3 linked regions of the Homo sapiens genome follow. The protein of the gene in region 3 interacts with the protein of the main gene of each other region in a pairwise test. Each region holds a gene or a part of one and is shown on either strand. Other genes may lie near its edges.

The links.
Region 1: the proteins of TFCP2 (region 3) and C19orf73 interact in binary tests that used the Homo sapiens proteins (3 or more experiments, as listed by UniProt).
Region 2: the proteins of TFCP2 (region 3) and POLL interact in binary tests that used the Homo sapiens proteins (3 or more experiments, as listed by UniProt).

What each region holds. Positions count from the first base shown.
Region 1 is NC_000019.10:49,117,898-49,123,484, reverse strand, and holds C19orf73 (putative uncharacterized protein C19orf73), read left to right. Parts: upstream 1-4,341; 5' UTR 4,342-4,462; coding exon 4,463-4,852; 3' UTR 4,853-5,083; downstream 5,084-5,587. Other genes in the region: LIN7B (protein lin-7 homolog B), read right to left, coding at 5,112-5,133, 5,467-5,587.
Region 2 is NC_000010.11:101,578,378-101,585,283, forward strand, and holds the end of POLL (DNA polymerase lambda), read right to left. Parts: intron 6,543-6,906; coding exon 6,225-6,542; coding exon of another isoform or gene 6,059-6,224; exon of another isoform or gene 5,973-6,058; intron 5,305-5,972; coding exon 5,131-5,304; intron 4,515-5,130; coding exon 4,386-4,514; intron 2,040-4,385; coding exon 1,871-2,039; intron 1,462-1,870; coding exon of another isoform or gene 1,441-1,461; coding exon 1,076-1,440; 3' UTR 505-1,075; downstream 1-504.
Region 3 is NC_000012.12:51,163,107-51,170,136, forward strand, and holds part of TFCP2 (alpha-globin transcription factor CP2), read right to left. Parts: intron 1-7,030.

The DNA.
Region 1 (5,587 bases), on a different chromosome or scaffold from region 3:
TGGGCAACAGAGTGAGACTCGATCTCAAAAAAAAAAGAATGTGAAATTAGGGCCAGGCACAGTGGCTCATGCTTGTAATTCCAGCACTTTGGAAGGCCAAGGTGAGAGGATCGCCTCAGTAACATAATGAGATCCAATGTCTAAACAACGATAACAGGCCGGGCGTGGTGGCTCACACCTGTAATCCCAGCACTTTGGGAGGCAGGAGGGGGATCACTTGAGGTCAGGAGTTCGAGACCAGCCTGGCCAACATGGCAAAACCCTGTCTCTATTAAAAATACAAAAAAAATTAGCCAGGCGTGGTGGCATGTGCCTGTAGTCCCAGCTATTTGGGAGGCTGAGGCAGGAGAATTGTTTGAACCCGGGAGGCAGAGGTTGCAGTGAGCTGAGATCATACCACTGCACTCCAGCCTGGGTGACAGAGTGAGACTCCGTCTCAAAAATAAAATAAAAACTAAACAACAGGCCGGGCGTGGTGGCTCCTGCCTGTAATCCCAACACTTTGGGAGGCAGAGGCAGGTGGATCACGAGGTTAACAGATAGAGACCATCCTGGCTAACACGGTGATACCCCGTCTCTACCAAAAATACAAAATATTAGCCGGGCGTGGTGGTGGGCGCCTGTTGTCCCAGCTACTTGGGAGGCTGAGGCAGGAAAATGGTGTGAACCCAGAAGGCGGAGCTTGCAGTGAGCTGAGATTGCGCCACTGCACTCCAGCCTGGGAGACAGAGTGAGACTCCATCCCCCGCCAAAAAAAAAAAAAAAAAAAACAACTAAACAACAACAACAACAAAAAAGAATGTGCAATTAGATAGAACTTCCTTAGAACCTAAAACAGGGAAACAGGGAAGGGCATTCTAGAATCAATGGCACGAATTAGGAAGCCTAGAGCACATACTTGGAACACACACATCTTAGAAGTTAGATTGCTCCTGGGAAGAGAATGGAATCTAGAACAACGTGGCTGAAACCTGGAACACACTTGAAATGAACATTTAGCAAAGAAGGAAGGACTTGTTGTTAGAACTTTGGAACATGTCTGAGGATATGGTGGGATCAGAATCTGGCTCAGGGGTCTTATCTAAATATATGAAAAAAACAAAGGCTGTGCACAGTGGCTCACGCCTATAATCCCAGCACTTTGGGAGGCCGAGGCAGGTGATCACCTGAGGTCGGGAACTCGAGACTAGTCTGACCAACATGGAGAAACCCCCATCTCTACTAAAAATACAAAAAATTAGCCGGGCATGGTGGTAGGCGCCTGTAATCCCAGCTACTCAGGAGGCTGAGGCAGGAGAATCGCTTGAACGCGGGAGGCAGAGGTTGTGGTGAGCCAAGATCGCAGCATTGCACTCCAGCCTGAGCAACAAGAGTGAAACTCCGTCTCAAAAAAAAAAAAAAAAAAATTGGCATCTGGCCTAGAACTCAGACCATGCCTGGAATGAAAATGGAACACAGAACAGACATCAGCTGGGAGTGTTCTGGTGTTTAGAAGGAATCTAGAACATGGAGCAATGCAAGAGCACATGTGCGACAAGAAATGTGGCCCGGCCAGGCGCGATGGCCATGCCTGTAATCCCAGCACTTTTGGGAGCCAACAGAGAAGGATCCCTTGAGCCTAGGAGTTTCAGACCAGTCTGGGCAACATGGCGAAACCCCCATCTCTACAAAAAATAAATAAATAAATAAATAAATAAAATTTTTTTTTGAGACAGAGTTTCGCTCTTGTCGTTCAGGCTGGAGTGCAGTGGCACGATCTCAGCTCAATGCAACCTCCGCCTCCGGGGTTCAAACGACTCTCCTGCCTCAGCCTCCTGAGTAGCTGGGATTACAGGCATGTGCCACCACGCCTGGCTAATTTTGTATTTTTAGTAGAGACAGGGTTTCTCCATGTTGGCCAGGCTGGTCTCAAAATCCTGACCTCAGGTGATCCGCCCGCTTCAGCCTCCCAAAGTGCTGGGATTACCGGCATGAGCCACCGCGCCTGGCCAAAAAAATTTTTTTTTAATTAGCCAGGCCTGGTGGTGAGTGCTTGTGGTCCCAGCTACTCAGGCGGCTAAGGTGGGAAGATGACCTGAGCCTAGGAGGTGGAGGCTGCAGTGAGCTGTGATTGTGCCAGTGCACTCCAGCCTGGGCAACAGAGACCTTGTCTCAAAATAAATAAATAAATAAATAGAAAGAAAGAAATTTGTATGGCAGCAGGTAGCTTCTAGATCTCCTTATGAGCCCAGGCCACAGAATACATCTGGAGGAGGTGATGTGTGTTCGGCTCATTGGCCTGGGAGAGTGTACTTGGAGAAGGGGAACTCATCTGAGCCTCAGGGGGCAATGGAGTGCTAGAAACATCTCAACAAGCTGCATCTTAGGGGAAAGAGTAGAGAGTCCTGAAGCCCGCCACCTGGGGTGACATGAGGATGAGACAGGGGTTTGGTAGGGCCACAGGAGATGTGAAGTTGATGGGGCAGAGTGATGAGGCTGTGAAGACCTGGTTCCTAAAAGTGAGACCTGAGAAACTAGATACCTGCTGGGGAGGGCAGTGGACAGAGCTGGGAGCCTGGACTCCTGAATCCTTGTGGAGGTAAATGATGGGGGATTGGAAGGTGAGAGCCTGAGGTCTTGTTTGGAGAGAGGGTTGAGGCAGACAGCCTCAGTAAAAGCTGGTGGGCAGTACGGAAGCTGGGGTCTGAACTCCTGGGTCCCTGAGGGGATAGGAGACTGGGACCAAGACATTTAGGTCCCCAAGTGGGAGTGTGAACAGAAGTCAGAGAACTGCATTGAGAATCACATTCCGGGTCCCCCAAAGGAAAGGAGTCATGGCGCCTGAGTCCCTCGGGGAGCAGATGCTGGGTGCCAGGAGGCTAAGTCTGTGTGTCTGCAGGGCACAGCGGGGTTCTAAGCAGAGCAAACGCTGGGGAACAGGATTCCTAGGTGCTGACGGGGTGAGGGCTACCACCTGGGGCCAGCAGAGGTGTAGACACGGACAGGCTTCCCGAACGGGGTGGGAGCTGCATCCCCGGGTGCCATGGTCCCCACGGCGACCAGAATAGGAAAATTCAGAAGCCCTGGATCCTCAGGGAGCAGCTGGAGTCCCAGGAACCTGGGGTGCCGAGGACGGGGCCACGAGCCTGGCCGGCAGAACCCAGAGGCTGGGGCGCCCTGGTCGGGGAGGGCCCGGGTATTCCCGGGTCAAAGGCGCGGCGGGGGGATCCCCGCGCCGCCTGCGCCCCCTCCCTGGTGGCGGCGGCAGGAGGTGGGGGGAGGCGAGGCTGCCGAGCGCGCTGACCATGGACAGCTCCAGAGCGGGCCTGTGTCCAGGGCGGCCGCCGAGCCTGCCTGGACCGTGGGACGCAGCCGGCTGTGCAAGCCCGAGGCTGGCGACGGGAGACGGAGTGCGCGAAGCGGGGACGATGCGGACGCGTCTGGGGAGTCTGGCACCGCCGCGGCGGGTGTCTGGAGCTCCCAGGACAGGGTCAGGAAGGGGGATCTAGGCTCTAGGAGGGGTCCCGGGGCCGGACCGGGAAATCCAAGCTCCTGGGCCCTGGAGGAGGCGCGAGGCGGCGGTGCGCCCGGGATTCTAGGGTTCGGTCGGGGACTCTGGGCGCCGGGAGGGGCACGCCTGAGTCCCCGGGGTTGGGGTGTGAAATCTGGGCTCGGGGGTCCCCTGGGATGAGGAAGGGAATCCGGGATCTCGGGGAGGCGGGGGAGGCTCGCCAAGGGGTCCCCAGGGTGGGCGCTGCCAGGAGGGCCGGGCCGGGCTCTTACCTGCCTGGTCCGCGGCGGCTGCGGGCGGAGCTGGGCTGCAGGAGGGACGTGGGGTGGAGTGGGGGGGCCGGGCGGGGCCCCTGGCAGCGGCCGGGGCCCGGCTCTGTCGCTTCGGAGCCCTGGAGCCCTGTCTCCGACGCTCGCGCGGGCTCCGCGTCTCTGGCTCCGGCTTGGGCGCTGGGGACCCCCCTCCCCCTCACGCTCTCACTGCCTTCTACCCCCAAAATAGCCCCCTGCCCCTGTCACCGATCAGCCTCCCCCCGCGAGGCCGCAGCCGCCAGATCCAGGGGTGCCCACCAGCGCCCCCCAAATCCCACCTTCCCCCCAAAAAAATTCCTCCTCCCTCCCCCTCCCCCCCCACGGCTCCCGGGCGGTCGTGGCCCCTTTAACAGGAGACTGACAGACGGCGAAGAGCGGCCAATGGGAGAGAGCGTCGGCGCCGGCCGGCGACTAGACCCCGCCTCCACACCGGCCGGGAGGGGTCGCGCGGGCGGAGAGCGAGAGGCGGGGCATAAGGCGCGTCGACCAATAGGCACGCGGCGTGAGGCGGCTGGGGCGGGAGGCGGAGCCCGGCAGGGGGATGATGTCACCTGGAGCGAGTAGCGCGCGGCGTGGAACGCGAGTCGCGACCCCGGCTCCCGGCAGTGGCGCGCACTAGCCCTCGCGCCGCACGGGACACGAGGGCTGGGCGGGCAGCGGGATGAGGCTAAAGGTTGGATTTCAAGGCGGGGGCTGCTTCCGGAAAGACGCGCTGTGTTTGGAAGGTGGAGTGAGCGCCCGGTGGGCGAGGGCACCTCATTCTGCACCCCTGCGCCCGCCTCGGGAACTGCACGCGGCACCCCCACCCGCGACTCCCACGCAGACAGTAGTGCGGCCTGCAGGGTTCCCCCGGCGGACGAGGCTAATGGTTCGCTCCGCCCCGCCCACACAGAGGCCGCCCACTGGCTCCGGCTGCGTTTCAGGACTCTGGAGGAAGGGACTTGGCCTTCGCCCTCAGACGCTCTTAAGGGTAGGCAGCGTTGTCCTCAGTTCTGCCCCAGCACTCAGACCCAGACTGGGTCCCTGCCTCCGCCCTCCGCCCTCGGACTAGTCTCTTGGAAGCCGGCCTGTCTCCGCCTTCAGACCTAGGGAGAGGTCTTAACCTCTGTTCTCAGACTCTGGAAAAGGCTTCTCAACGGCTTGGCCTGACCTCAGCTCCTCGCATTCCCTCCACATCTCAAGACACCAACCCAGGGATGCAGGACAGACACACAGACACTCAGTGAGGGTCAAATATCTTTAAATAAAGTGCCAGGAACAATAAATACTGTACAGGAAGAGAGTGCACGTGAACGTCCAGATCTGTGGTTTCAACCTCGAGACTCCAAGGACCTGCAAGGGGGGTGGACAAGGGACCCGGGATCAGGGAGGCTCCGGGTAGACAAGAGGGGCAGGACTGGGGTTGCAGAGGCAAGGGCCCAGGTAAGTGGGCTGAGGGATCCCAGCCACAGTAGGTTCCGTATCTTGGGATGGAAGGAAGCTAAGGGCTCCCCAGGGGATTTGGCCAAACTAGCCTGGGGTGAGAGCCTGGGCCAAGGGTCAAGGGTCAGGATCCCAGAGGAGGGGCCAGGGCTGGAAGATCCAGGAAGCACTGGCCTGGTTTGGGAGCCTGGGGTTAAAGGGAGCCCGTGGAGGCCCCAGGGGTGTGGTGACCCAGGGGCTCACGAGTAGCTCTGATGCTGTTGGCGCCGGCGGGCAGAGCGCATCTTCTCGAACCGGGCCTCCATCTCCTCCAGCACTCGCGGTGTGTAACGGACAACCAGCTTCACCGAGCCCTGGGCCGCCT
Region 2 (6,906 bases), on a different chromosome or scaffold from region 3:
GCTCTGCTTCCAGTCCTCTGCCAGCCCAGCCTGCTCCTGACTCCCAGCACACAGTGTCCTCTCTAAAGCTGTTCCTTAATTGTCCCCAAACAGAGCCTGCTGACTCCTCTCAGAGGCAATTTCCCTGCCAGTCTGCCTCTCTCCTCCTCCGGGAAGCCTTCCCTGGCCGCCCATCCCTGTGTACACGGTCACCATTTAGTTGTTCCTAATGGTTTCCTGAGTCTTGTCACTTTTGCTCATGTCCCCTGATAGCCTGGTCTAAGGTAGGGCCTGCAGAAGATGCTGATGACTAGATAGGAGCTCTGGGTGCCTGGCTCCAACATTCTCCCTGGTCACAGCCACTGCTGTCCTTGCTGTGAGTTTAGGAGCTGACTCAGGCCAGTCCTGTCTGGAGGGCAGTTAACACAGCCTTTCTGGGCTCCTCTTTTCAGTTCCCATCTCTGTCGTCCCTGCCTGGGTGGAACAAGGTAGCCAGAGGCTGCAGCAGCTCAGACACCAGGCAGGTTCAATGTCAAATGCACTTTACTGGGCCCCTGGGCCTCCCAACACTGTCCTCACCAAGGCTGGGGCACCCCATTCCCAGCACCACCAGCTGCCCAGGAAGCAGGACGGATAGAGGGAACACATGTGGAATGGCTGTTCTCCTACCCCAGAGGGTGCCGGATGATGTTGACAGCACGGCTGCTTCCCTCTCCCCTGCAGCTTCTGTCCCCACCCAGCAGCTTGGCCTTTCCCATAGCAGGGAAGGGGGATACCTGGGGCTTCAAACCAGCCACCTGCTCCTGCTTAAAATGGGGCAAGGGGCCATTTGCAAAATTCTTCGAGGGGCAGTGGTGAGGTAGAAGGGGTGGCAGCCTGCTCCTGTCTGGGAGAGGGCTGGGCAGACACTGGGAGCCGGGCAGACACTGGGAGCCGGGCTGGCTCTTGCTTCAGGCCCAGAGCCCTGGGCCCTGCTCGCTGAGGAAGCTGGTGGTTGGAGCGGCGAGGTTCAGCCAGCTGAGGCTGGAGGGAGTACTGGGTGGCCAGGAGGGGTAGCCAGTCCAACTCGGCTCTCCTCAGCACCCCCAGCCATGGGTCACCAGTCCCGCTCAGCAGGTTCTCGGTAGGGGAGGCCTAAGAGCCTGAAGACATCCTTCTCAGTGGGAGTGGGCAGCACTCGGCCAGGCCCCACCTTGCAGCCATGGGTGTTCCGGACCACAGCAGTGCTGAGGGCATGTTCTGACAGACTCATGCCCTTGGTTTTGGCCAGGGCTCGCATGGAGCGGTTGAAGTGTGCAGAGCCGGTGAAGTAGAGCAGGGCACAGGCAAACTCGCTATAGGGCACCACGATGATGTCCAGGCGCCGGTGCCGCCGCCCTGGCCCTGGGAGCCGGCACACCCCCAAGTACTTCTGTTGCTGACCATTCTCCTCTTGGCTCACCAAGTCATCTGTGAGGAACCCTGGCCCAACAGAGGGGACTGCTGGGAGGGCAGGGAACCAGGCCTGGGCTGTCCCATCCTCCCAGGTCTCTCCTGATGTCTAAGCTGGGGCTTGCCCAGGTATTAGCTGGGTGACACTACCCTCTCTGGGCCCTTCTCCTTTTCTGTAAAACATGGATAGTAATTCCCATCTCCCCCATAGTGTCACAGAAAGATCAGATGAGATACTTGGCCTGCAGGGTTCACTGAGCACCTCCACATAGGTGTGGCGGGGCTGTTCCATCTCTCCCTGGAGAGGATTCCGGCCCCGATAGAGAGATGGGATGCTGGCAAAGCACTGTTCCCCTGCTTCCTGCCTCAGGACTGGAACTTCTGAGGTTCTCCCTCTGAGGGGGCCCCCAGACCTGTGCTGCCCTCTGTCAACCTGCTCACCCAGAGATGGAGCTTATACCTTCCTGCCGAAGACTGTCAAGGAGGCGGCTGAAGATACCCCGGTGGGACCGGCCATCTGGGTGAGTGATGAGCACGTCGACATCACCACAGGTCGCCTTTCCCCGTCGGTATGAACCACATGCCACACACAGCAGCCCAGAGTTAAAGGCCTGGGCTGCTTTCTGGACCTGGGAAAGAGAGCGGTGACAGGTGAGGGGCTGTGCGTGGGGAGCTCCTCTCCCACAGCAGTACAAGGGCCTTCCCAGACTCGGGCCCACACCCTCAGCTTATGCCCATTCCAGATGCCTGCTGCAAGCCCAGGGGAATCCACCCTGAGGAGCTGCTGTTCTTTCCCTTCGCTAGGACAGGAGAGAAGAAAAAGCTCACTGTGCAGGAGGCAAGCCTGAGGAGAGACGGGAGAAGGTGCCGGCTCTGCTTCTGAGAGTGGGCACTGAGCTTGCCCTGTGGAGCTCTTTAAGAGTAGGGAGACACAGACTCTCTCTGCCCCTGCCCCAGCCCACGTGCCCAGGTCTGTGAAACTCCACTTAGGACAAGGGGCCAGGTGCTGAAAGCCCTCAGCCAGGTCTAGGCAGCCCCAGATATCTACTGATTTGGAGCTAAAGGTTTGGAATATGTGAGCTGGGGTTTGAGGACTGAGCAGGTGGCTGGCAGCATGCGCCAGGCCCAGGCCCAGGAGAAAGTGGAGCACAGAAATACAGCTGCACCTGTGGGAAAGGAGAGGAAAGAAAGCAAAGAGGGGGCAGTTCTGAGCCAACACCCACATCCTTTCTTGGTGGGGAGGGAGCTGAGACAGCAACTGCCAGCTGAAGGATTGTCCCTCTGAGGAAAAATAAACCCATTAGCCTCCACCCCTGAGACACTGAGGTTCTTTCATATGCAGATGGCCTCCTGCCTCCACCCCAGGACACTGAAAATTCTGGGGCCCCGGACACCTCAAGTATCCTGACAGGAGGGCTCCGCTAATCCCCTTACTCCCTTCTTGAGCCTCCCAAGAGAATGGAAGGAGGAGGTCCACGTGAGTAATCCCATCAAAACTCCTATGGCTGGAGCCCTTAAATGGGGGCACAGGAGGCCAGGTGGGAAGCCTCTTTTGTTCCAATGGGCTGGGTACTGACTGAGGCATTCTCCATGCCCGGACACCATGGCTGAGTGACGGTGTCATCACTAGCACCAAGGCCTGGTGATGGGCAGACAAAGAGGCCTGTCCATCCATCTCATACCGGCCTCATAGCCTTGTGGCCTGGAATGGAGCTGGGGGCTGATTTCAATCAAACTAGGCCAGTCTCCATGGGATCCCACTCTATCAGAATCCCTGACCAAAGTGAGCAAAACTTGCCTATTACAAGCAGCTCCTAATCCTAATGCCCATTGAACAAATGATACATCTAGCCCTAAATGCAGTCCAGTGTCTCTCTAATCTAGCTTTTACATGAACCTAATCGCTAACCCAACTCTAAACCAAACCCAAATCTTATTTCTTGGACAACTACAAATCTTAACTTAAAAGCAACCAACATTAAGAAAATCCTACGCCTAATTAAAGCCTAACTTTAACTCAATCTTTTTTTTTTTTTCAGACAGAGTCTTGCTCTGTTGCCCAGGCTAGAGTGCAGTGGCACAATCTTGGCTCGCTGCAACCTCCGCCTCCCAGGTTCAAGCAAATCTCCCACCTCAGCCTCCCAAGAAACTGGGATTATAGGCATGAGCCACGGCACCCGCCTAACTTTTTTGTATTTTTAGTAGAGACGGGGTTTCGCCATGTTTGCCAGGCTGGAAATTTTTGTATGTTTTATAGAGACAGGGTTTCACCACGTTGGCCAGGCTGGTCTCGAGCTCCTGAGCTCAGATGATCTGTCCACCCTGTTCTCCCAATGTGCTGGGATTAAAGGCATAAGCCACTGTGCCTGGTCTTAACTCCATCTTGATGGAGCTTTCTTCCAGCCCCAAACCAAATCCTACTGACACTGTGCTTTTACACCAACTCTACCCCAAATCCTGAGCCAGCCTTGCGTGGGCTTTAGAAGGTCCATACATCTGGAAAAAGACATAAACCTTTGCACATTTGTGCATTTTGGGGAGAAAACAGTCCACAGTTTTCATCAGGTTCTCAAAGAAGTTGGTGAAATAAAAAAAAAAGATAAAATAAAATATTAAAACCCTCTGCCCTGACCCACCCTAACCTCAGTACAGATATAATTCACCTGTAATCTAACCCTAACATTAACCCAATCCTAACACCAATCAGTCTAGAATTGAATCCAATCCTAATAGGCCTGACTACTGAGAACCAGAATCTAGAGGGCTGGTGTTACAGCTCTTTCCTCCCAAAGCTCCCCACCCCCACCTCTGGGCCTGGAGCTTCAGTCTTAACTTGCTCTGTGCTCAACCTCTGGTGATCCACAGTTTCCTCTGCCTGCTGTCCTCCCCAGCTGAGGAGTTGGGGGTTCTTGGCTTTGACCCAAGACCTTACAGCAGGACCTGGCTGTCCTCACTGCTCTGGGACACCTGCTTACTGTCTGCTCAATCTCTGTAGCCTCCTCCCTGGGCATACGTTCCAGGAAGTCACTGTAATGCTTCAGGCCGATGGCCTGCTGGGTTGTCAGGGAGGCCTGGCTGCGGATGTCTTCCAGACTTCGGAAGCCCTGGAAAAAAGCAGCCAGATGGGAAGCTGTAAGGATCCAGGACCAATGAAGAGGCATGAGTGAGCACACACACAAGGCTTCCATCGCCCCAGACTCTAGGGAAGGCTAGAGGCAGGACCAACCTAGGGGCAGTTGGGTCTGTACTCAGCAGGACTTGGGAAAGGCAGGGAGCATGGGAAACATGCCATCATCCAGCCCTGCCACTATCCTAAGATGCTCGTTCATGATTCCATCAGTCTGAGGATGGACCTTGTCATCTTCATCCTTACCAAGCTGCCCTGGTGATTGTGGGCAGAGCCAGGATTGGGAACCACTGCTCTAGACACGCAGTGTCAAGGCCTGGCCTCCTCAGGAAGGCCCTTGCTGGTCTGGGGAGACTGAGAAACATACTTCTTGTCCCTGTCTACTCCTTCTTAAGGATACCAAGCAACAAGGCTGTTCTGGGAGCTGAGGGGTCTATATGAGTCCTGGTCCGCTTGAAAAATGGTCTCCCTATACTGTGGGTGCATTCCCATCAGAGCACAGCATAGGGATCTGGGGCAGAGCACAGCACACATCTGGGGCAGGAACTCTGAGACACAGCAAAACTGAAGTAGGGGCTGAGCCAGGGTGTGACCTGTTGGTACCACATCTGGGCAGTCTTGGTCCCAGCTCCCCAGATGTTGGAGAAGAGCTCCAAGACAGGCACGCTCTCACTGATATGGTCCAGCTTCCGCAAATGCCCGCTCTCCAGGATCTCTATGATTTTCTCAGCCATCCGCTTCCCAATCCCAGGGATACTGCAGGCCTCCTAGAGGAGGAGGAGGCAGAGGCAAGAAAGAAGAGTGAGGAGATGGAAGAGGTAGAGCCAGTGGAAAGGAAGCTGACTCCTCTAGCAGATGCTGACATAAAAGCCAGCCTGGCTGCTTGGCAACTGTGTGGCTGTGTAAAGCTTGGGTGTAGTTGAAGATGAGAATTTTGGATAGAATGAGGGCTGGGTAATTTGTCTTTTGGTTCCCAGAAGGATGGAGACCAGCAGTAAGAAGTAGAAAATAATGATGATATTAGTCACCACCACCACCACCACCATCATCATCATTCCAACAGCAAGAGCTAACATTTACTGAGGGCTTACTCTATGTCAGGTCCTGTGCTACAGGGACCATTTCATTTAATAGTAGCCCCTTTTTACTAATGAGAAAACTGATGCTTTGAGAGTTTAAGTAACTTGTCTGGAGTCACACAGTTAGTGAATGACAGGAACCAGAGTTCAAACCCTGGTCTGTTAGGCTTCAGAGTCCAAACTTCTTTTAAACAACTTTTTAGGCGGGACACAAGGGCTCATGGCTGTAATCCCAGCACTTTGCAGGGCTGAGCCGAGGGTAGATTGCTTGAGCCCAGGAGTTCAAGACCAGCCTGGGTAACACGGCAAAACACCATCTCTGCTAAATAAATGAATAAATAAATAAATAAACAAAATTAAAAATAAAAAACTTTTAATTATGTTAAAAAATTCAAAAGTAGAGAGATCCATATAACCCCCAAGTATCGTACATCTCCCAGCTTCAACAACTATCAAGATTTTGCCAATCTGCTTTCATCAATTTTCCTTTTTTTTCTTTTGTGCAAGTCCTAGACCCCATAAAATCTTCACCACTGTACCTGAACCCCACTGGGGTTACTAACCACTGGCCAGTAAAGACCCCTCCTCCCACTCTAGCCCCTGGGTACCTGGTACGAGGTGACAGGCTTATGGAAGCTCTTGAGGGCATTGATGGCCTTGGCATAGCCCAGGGCCCTCCACTTGTCTCCCTGAACACTGTAGGCTTTGGCCAGAACTTCCAGCTTCTCTGTGATATGGAGGTTGTGATTGGTCGCCTTCTGGCTTGAGGGCTGTGCACAGACCCACTTATCCAGGACAGCAGGGGCTGGGCTAGGCTCACAATCTCCCTCAAGGGAGGTGGGGTAGTGGCCACTGATGAGGGCTTCCAGATCAGCTGCACTAACCTGGGTTTCTTCCCCATCACTGGCTTCATCATCAGAGATGGGCTTGGGATAGAGAAGAAAAGAAAACAATAAATTCTTGTTCTCCAAGAGAAGGGATCCTTAAAGGTGGGGGTCATCTTCTTTGTGCGGGGGGAGGGTCTTCTAGTCAGACCTAAGAATGAGGCGGGGCCTTCTGCATCAGACTTGGATCTCCTTGGGTGTGAGGCCACGTTCCCTTTGGCTCCACGCAGTGCCTAGCCCTAGGATCCCCAGTGGTATGTGTTAGATATGGCCTAGATAAATGCAGCAGTGATGAGTGTTGGGAAGAGCTAAATGGCTTCACAATAGAGCCCTCCTCTCTCAGGGGCCTGGGACTTTCTGAACAGCCACCAGGCCCACCCCATTTCTGTGATCTGCTTCCTAGGGG
Region 3 (7,030 bases):
CTGAGCAACATGATGAAACCCTGTCTCTTCAAAAAATACAAAAATTAGCTAGGCATGGTGGCACGAGCCTATGGTCCCAGCTACTTGGGAGACTGAGGTGGGAGGATTGCCTGAATCTGGAAAGTGAAAGCTGTGATGGTGCCACTGCACCCCAGCCTGGGCAACAGAGCAAGACCCTGTCTTAAAAAATAATAGTAATAAGGCCGGGCGCGGTGGCTCACGCCTATAATCCCAGCACTTTGGGAGGCCAAGGCGGACAGATCACCTGAAGTTGGGAGTTCAAGACCAGCCTGACCAATGTGGCAAAACCCTGTCTCTACTAAAAATACAAAAATTAGCTGGGTGTGGTGGTGTATGTCTGTAATCCCAGCTACTTGGGAGGCTGAGGCAGGAGAATCGCTTGAACTTGGGAGGCAGAGGTTGCAGTGAGCCAAGATCACGCCACTGTACTCCAGCCCAGGCAACAGAGCGAGACTCTGTCTCAAAAAATAAATAAATAAATAATAATAACAATAATAAAATATTAGAAAGAAGGCAGGGTATGGTGGCTCATGCCTTTAATCCCAACACTTTGGGAAGCTGAGGTGGGAGAATCGCTTGAGCCCATGAGCTCAAGACAAGCCTGGGCACCATAGTGAAACCCCCATCTCTACAAAAAATAAAAATAAAAACAGAGATAAAAAAAAGAAAGACCTTAAGTCAATACTCTAACTTCAGACCTTAAGGAACTAGAAAAAGAAGCACAAACTGGACCCAACCAAAGGGAGGGAATAACAATGTTTAGAGCAGAGATAAGTGAAATAAAGAATAAAAATAAGGCAGGTGCAGTACCTCACACCTGTAATCCCAGCGCTTTGGGAGGCTGAGGCAGGAGGATCGCTTGAGGCCAGGAGTTCAAGGCCTGGGCAAGACAGTGAGACCCCATCTCTATGAAATTAAAAAAAAAATTAGCTGGGTTTGGTGATGCATGCCTGTAGTCTCAGTTACTCAGGAGGCTGAGGTAGGAGGATCACTTGAGCCCAGCAGTTTGAGGTTGCAGTGCATATGATCACACCACTGCATCATTCCAGCCTGGGTAACAGAGCACGGCCCCATTTCTCAAAAACAAACAAACAACAACAACCACAAAAACCAAGAAGAATAAAAATAGTAGAATCAACGAAACCAAAAATTTGTTATTTAAAAAGATCAACAGAATTTACAAACTCTTGGCCGGGTATGGTGGCTCACGCCTGTAATCCCAGCACTTTGGGAGGCCGAGGCGGGCAGATCACAAGGTCAGGAGTTCAAGACCAGCCTGGTCAACATGGTAAAACCCTGTCTCTACTAAAAATACAAAAATTAGCTGGGCACGGTGGCAGGCACCTGTAATCCCAGCTACTGGAGAGGCTGAGGCAGGAGAATTGCTTGAACCTGGGAGGTGGAGGTTGCAGTGAGCTGAGATCATGCCACTGCACTCCAGCCTGGGTGACACAGCAAGACTCCATCTCGAAAAAAAAAAAAAAAAAGTAATTAACAAACTCTTGTCAGACTGACTGGGAGAAAAAGAAAGAAGATGAAATGAAAATAAATAAAATCAGAAATGAAGCTGGGGATATTACTACTAATTTTATATAAATGAAAGGATTATAAGAGAATACTGTGAATGACTAAACCAGCATATTAGATAATTTAGATAAAAGAGACAAATTTTTAGAAACATTAAAGTACCAAAACTGACTCAGAAAAAATTAAAAGTCTCAACAAACCTATAATAAGAGATTGAATTGATAAACAAAAACCTCCCAACAAAGAAAAGTCCAGTATCACATGGCTGCATTGGCAAATTCTACCAAATATTCAAAGAATTAACACCAATCCTACTCGAACTCCTTCAAAAAACAGAAAAGAATGGAACACTTCCTAACGTTCTATGAGGCCAACATCACCCTGACACCAAAGCCAGAAAAAGATACGATAAAATTCAGGCTGGGCATGGTGGCTCACACCTGTAATCCTAGCACTTTGGGAGGCTGAGGCAGGAAGATCCCTTGAGTCCAGGAGTTCAAGACCAGCCTGGGCAACATAGGGAGACTTGGTCTCTTAAAAAAAAGACATGATAAGAAAACTATAAACCAATATCCCATATGAATATAGAAATAAAAATCCTCAAGAAAATAACAGCAAACTGCAAACTGGATCCAACAGTACATTAAAAAGATTATATACCATGACCAACATTTATCCCAGGAATGCAAGAGTGGTTCAACATAAGGAAATCAATCAATGTGATACACCACATTATCATCTCAACAGACACAGAAAAGATATTTGAAAAAATTCAATACCCTTTTAAGATTAAAAAAAAAAACACTCAGCAAAAGTTCAAAGACATTATGCTAAGTGAATAAGTCAGTCACAAAAGGACAAATATATGATCCCACGTATATGAGGTTTTTAGAGTAGTCAAATTCATAGACACAGAAAGTAGAATGGTGGTTGCCAGAGGCTGGAGTGGGGGGAGATGGGAAGTTAGTGTTTAATAGGTACAGCATTTCACTTTGGGATGAAAAAGTTCTGAAGACAGATCATGGTGACAGTTGTACAACAACGTAAATGTACTTAATTACACTGATCTGGACATTTTTAAAGGGTTAAAATGATAGAATTTTATGTTATGTGTATTTTACCACAATAAACACACACATACACACATATTCAGCAAACTAGGAATAGAAGGAAACTTATTTAACACTAAAACGGCATTTATGAAAAACTCTGAGTAGGGCATGGTGGCACATGCCTGTAGTCCCAGCTACTCAGGAGGCTGAGGCAGGACTGCTTGATCCCCGGGAGTTCGAAGCTGCAGTGAGCCATGAACATGCCACTGCACTCCAGCCTGGGCAACAGAGTGAGACCCCATCTCAAACAAACAAACAAAGAAGTTGGCCAGGCATGGTGGCTCACATCTGTAATCCCAGCACTTTGGGAGGCCAAGGCAGGTGGATCACCTGAGGTCAGGAGTTTGAGACCAGCCTGGCTAACATGGTGAAACCCCGTCTCTACTAAAAATACAAAAATTAGCTGGGTGTGGTGGTATGTGCCTGTAATCCCAGCTACTTGGGAGGCTGAGGCAGGAGAATCGCTTGAAGCTGGGAGGCAGTTGCAGTGAGCTGAGACCATGCCATTGCACTCCAGCCTGGGCAACAAGATCGAAAACTCCATCTCAAAAAATAATAATAATAATAAATAATAAATAAATAAAAGTTAACATCTGTGAACAGCCTGGGCAACATAGCATGACCCTGCCTCAAAAGAAAAAAAAAGGAAAGAAAAAAAAGATGACATCTCTGACTGTGGGTCACTATATTAACAGATGCTTAAAGTTGTTTTTCAGGAATTAGGGGACAGCTCTTACCCAGTTGAGACCACCAATCCCTCAACTGGACCTGCATGAGTGCCCAAAAAGTGACCTTTTCATGTCAGAGGGACAAAAACTCCACACTTAGATCATGTTAACACTGCCATTTTCTGCACATGGCCTATGAAGAGCAATGTAGCTCAATTACGCTTGTGCAGAAACCTTGATTACCTCACCTTTCCTACCTGCCAATCACCTTTCCCCATGCTTTAGACCACCCTGCGTCCTACCCCACAAATACTGCCAAGCCCTATTTTCAGGGTGCCAGATTTGGGATTTGCTCTCCTGTCTCCTCATTCAGCAGCCCTATGAATAAAATCTTGTCTCTTTTGCAAAACCCATCATCATAGTGATTGGCTTGCTGCACGTGGGCAGGACGAACCTAGTTTGATATCATAACCATCATCACAAACAATTTTAGAACATTTTTAACACCCTGAAAAGAAACTCCATTCCCACTAGTAGTCCCTCTCCATTCCCTCCTCCTCCATAGTTCTAGTCAACCACTAATTTATTTTCTCTACAGATCTGCCCATTCTAGAAATGTCATAGAAATGGAATCATATGTATGTGGTCTTTTGTGACTGGCTCCTTCACTTATCATGTATTCACAATGAATCTCCTTTTCCTTTTAGTATAAAGTTTGTGCCACAATAAAAATATAAGAAAAAAAGAATAATAAAAGGACCACTAATAAGGATTAAATAAATCTAATTAAGATGACTCTTTATAAAATACAAATTAATAGATTTGAAGATGAAACCATCATAAGATGCAACAGAAAATAAACTAGGGTAAAACAAATGTGTCAGAGAAGATATTTTATAAAACAAATTGCTTGTCAAAGAGAGTATTTTCCCTAATAAAGATGTAGAACGTCAGACTGATTGACATTTTTTTTTTTTGAGACAGTCTCGCTTTTGTCCCCTAGGCTGGAGTGCAGTGGCTCGATCTTGGCTCACTGCAACCTCCGCCTCCCAGGTTTAAGTCATTCTCTTGCCTCAGCCTCCCGAGTAGCTGAGATTACAGGTGTGCACCATCATGCCCAGCTAATTTTTGTATTTTCAGTAGAGACAGGGTTTTACCATGTTGGCCAGGCTGGTCTTGAACTCCTGACCTCAAGGTGATCTGCCTGCCTCAGCCTCCCAAAGTGCTGGGATTACAGGTGTGCACCACCATGCCTGGCCTGATTGACTCTTAGAACCAGTTGGCAAAGATTATTGCTGGAGGGTGGCACACTAAGATCCAAGGTCTTATTAAAAGGAGAAATAGGCCTGGGAACCGCGGCTGACATGTGTAATTACAGCAATTTGGGAGGCCAAGGTGGGAGGATCTCTTAAGGTCGGGAGTTAGAGATCAGCCTGAGCAACACAGCAAGATCTAGTCTCTACAAAAAGTAGAAAAACTGGCCAGGTGTGGTGGTGTGACCCTGTAGTCCTAGCCAGTCAGGAGGCTGCAGCAGGAAGATCACTTGAGCCCAGGAGTTTGAGGCTGCAATGAGCTACAATCACGCCACTGCACTCTAGCTTGGGTGACAAGAGTGAGATGTCGCCTCCAAAAACATAAATAATAAGACAAAATTAAAATTAAAAAAAAATAAAAATCAGGGCTGGGCACAGTGGCTCACACCTATAATCCCGGCACTTTGGGAGGCCAAGGGGGAAGAACTGTTTGAGCCCAGGAGTTCCAGAACAGCCTGGTCAACATAGGGAGACCCTGTCTCTGCAAAACATTTAAAAATCAGCCAGACATGGTATCTCATGACTGTACCCCCAGGTGCACTCCAGCCTAGGGGACAGCTACTTGGGAGGACTGCTTGAGCTCAGGAATTCGAGGCAGCAGTGAGCTGTGATTGAGCCACTACACTCCAGCCTTGGCGACAAAGCAAGACCTCAACTCTAATGAATAAATAATCAGATTTCTAGTCTGTGCCCCAATCACTGGAGATGGGACCCTGTAAACTGGTGTTTTGTTTTGGTTTGGTTTTTGTTTTTTTGAGACAGGGTCTCACCCTGTCACCCAAGCTGGAGTGCAGAGGCACAATCACAGCTCACTGCAGCCTTGACCTCCTGGGCTCAAACGATCCTCCCATCTCAGCCTCTGGAGTAGCTGGGACTAGGGGCAGGCACCACCATACTCAGCTAATTTTTTTATTTTTAGTAGAGAGAGGGTCTCCCTATGTTGCCCAGGCTGATGAAAACTCTTGAGCTCAAGCAGTCCTCCCACCTTGGCCTCCCAAAGTGCTGGGATTACAGGCACGAGCCACCATGCCTATCCCCAACTGTATTTTTATTTTTATTTCATTTTTTTTTTGAGATGCAGTCTGGCTCTGTTGCCCAGGCTGTAGTGCAGTGGCACAGTCTCAGCTCATTGCAACTTCCGCCTCCCGGGTTCATGCAAGTCTCCTGCCTCAGCCTCCCAAGTAGCTGGGATTACAGGCATGCACCACCACGCCCAACTAATTTTTGTATTGTTGGTAGAGACAGGGTTTCACCACGTTGGCCAGGCTGGTCTCAAACTCCTGACCTCAGGGGATCCACCCACCTCAGTCTCCCAAAGTGTTTGGATTACAGGCGTGAGCCACCACACCTGGTCCCCAAGTGTATTTTTAATAAGCTGTCCAGGTGACTCTTATGAATACTAAAATTTGAAGACCAATATCTAATTAACACAAATTAATAGAATAGATTAAATGTGTATAAGTCAAGAGAGCTGGGTGCAGTGGCTCACGCCTGTAATCCCCCAGCACTTTGGGAGGCTGAGACGGGTGGATCACCTGAGGTCAGGAGTTCAAGACCAGCCTGGCCAATATGGTGAAACCCCATCTCTACTAAAATTACAAAAATTAGCCGGGCATGATGGCGTGCGCCTGTAGTGCCAGCTACTCGGGAGGCTGAGGCAGGAGAATCGCTTGAACCCGGGAGACAGAGGTTGCAGTGAGCTAAGATCACACCACTGAATTCCAGCCTGGGCAACAGAGCGAGACTCCATCTCAAAAAGAAAAAAAAAAAGTCAAGAGAATAGTGACAAGTACCTAACACATGAAAAAAAGGATGAAAAAAACAAAAAAGCCAGGCGTAGTGTTATATGCCTATAGTCTCAGCTACTCGGAAGGCTGAAGTGAGAGGATCACTTGAGCCCGGGAGATGGAAGTTCTACTGAGCCGAGATGGTGCCACTGCACCCCAGCCTGAGTGACAGAACAGGACCCGTCTCAAAAAGAAAAGAAAAGAAGAAAGTACTTAAAATGTTGGCACACTATACTCTCAAGAACTCAAAGTGATGTTTGAAACTTGTGCATTTGATTTTGATGTTGAAAAAACTAAATGTGTAAATATGCAAGCCATTCTAATGTCTGTGAAAAACACAGAGTATGATTTGTAAAGAACTCTTAATTAAATGTAAGATGGCATAGTATCAAGAGCATATGGTATTGCACCTAGTAGATTAACAAATGTTTGCTGGTGATGTTAACTATTTTTATAATGAGTACAGTTATATTTAATTATTTCCAGCCTAACCTCTGGTAACCTAAACAAAATCAAACTTTTTGCTGTGAATATCTTTACACAAGTAACAGCATAAAAAATTGTCAAATATTATGTCAGACGCTCATGTGTAAGTTCAGGGT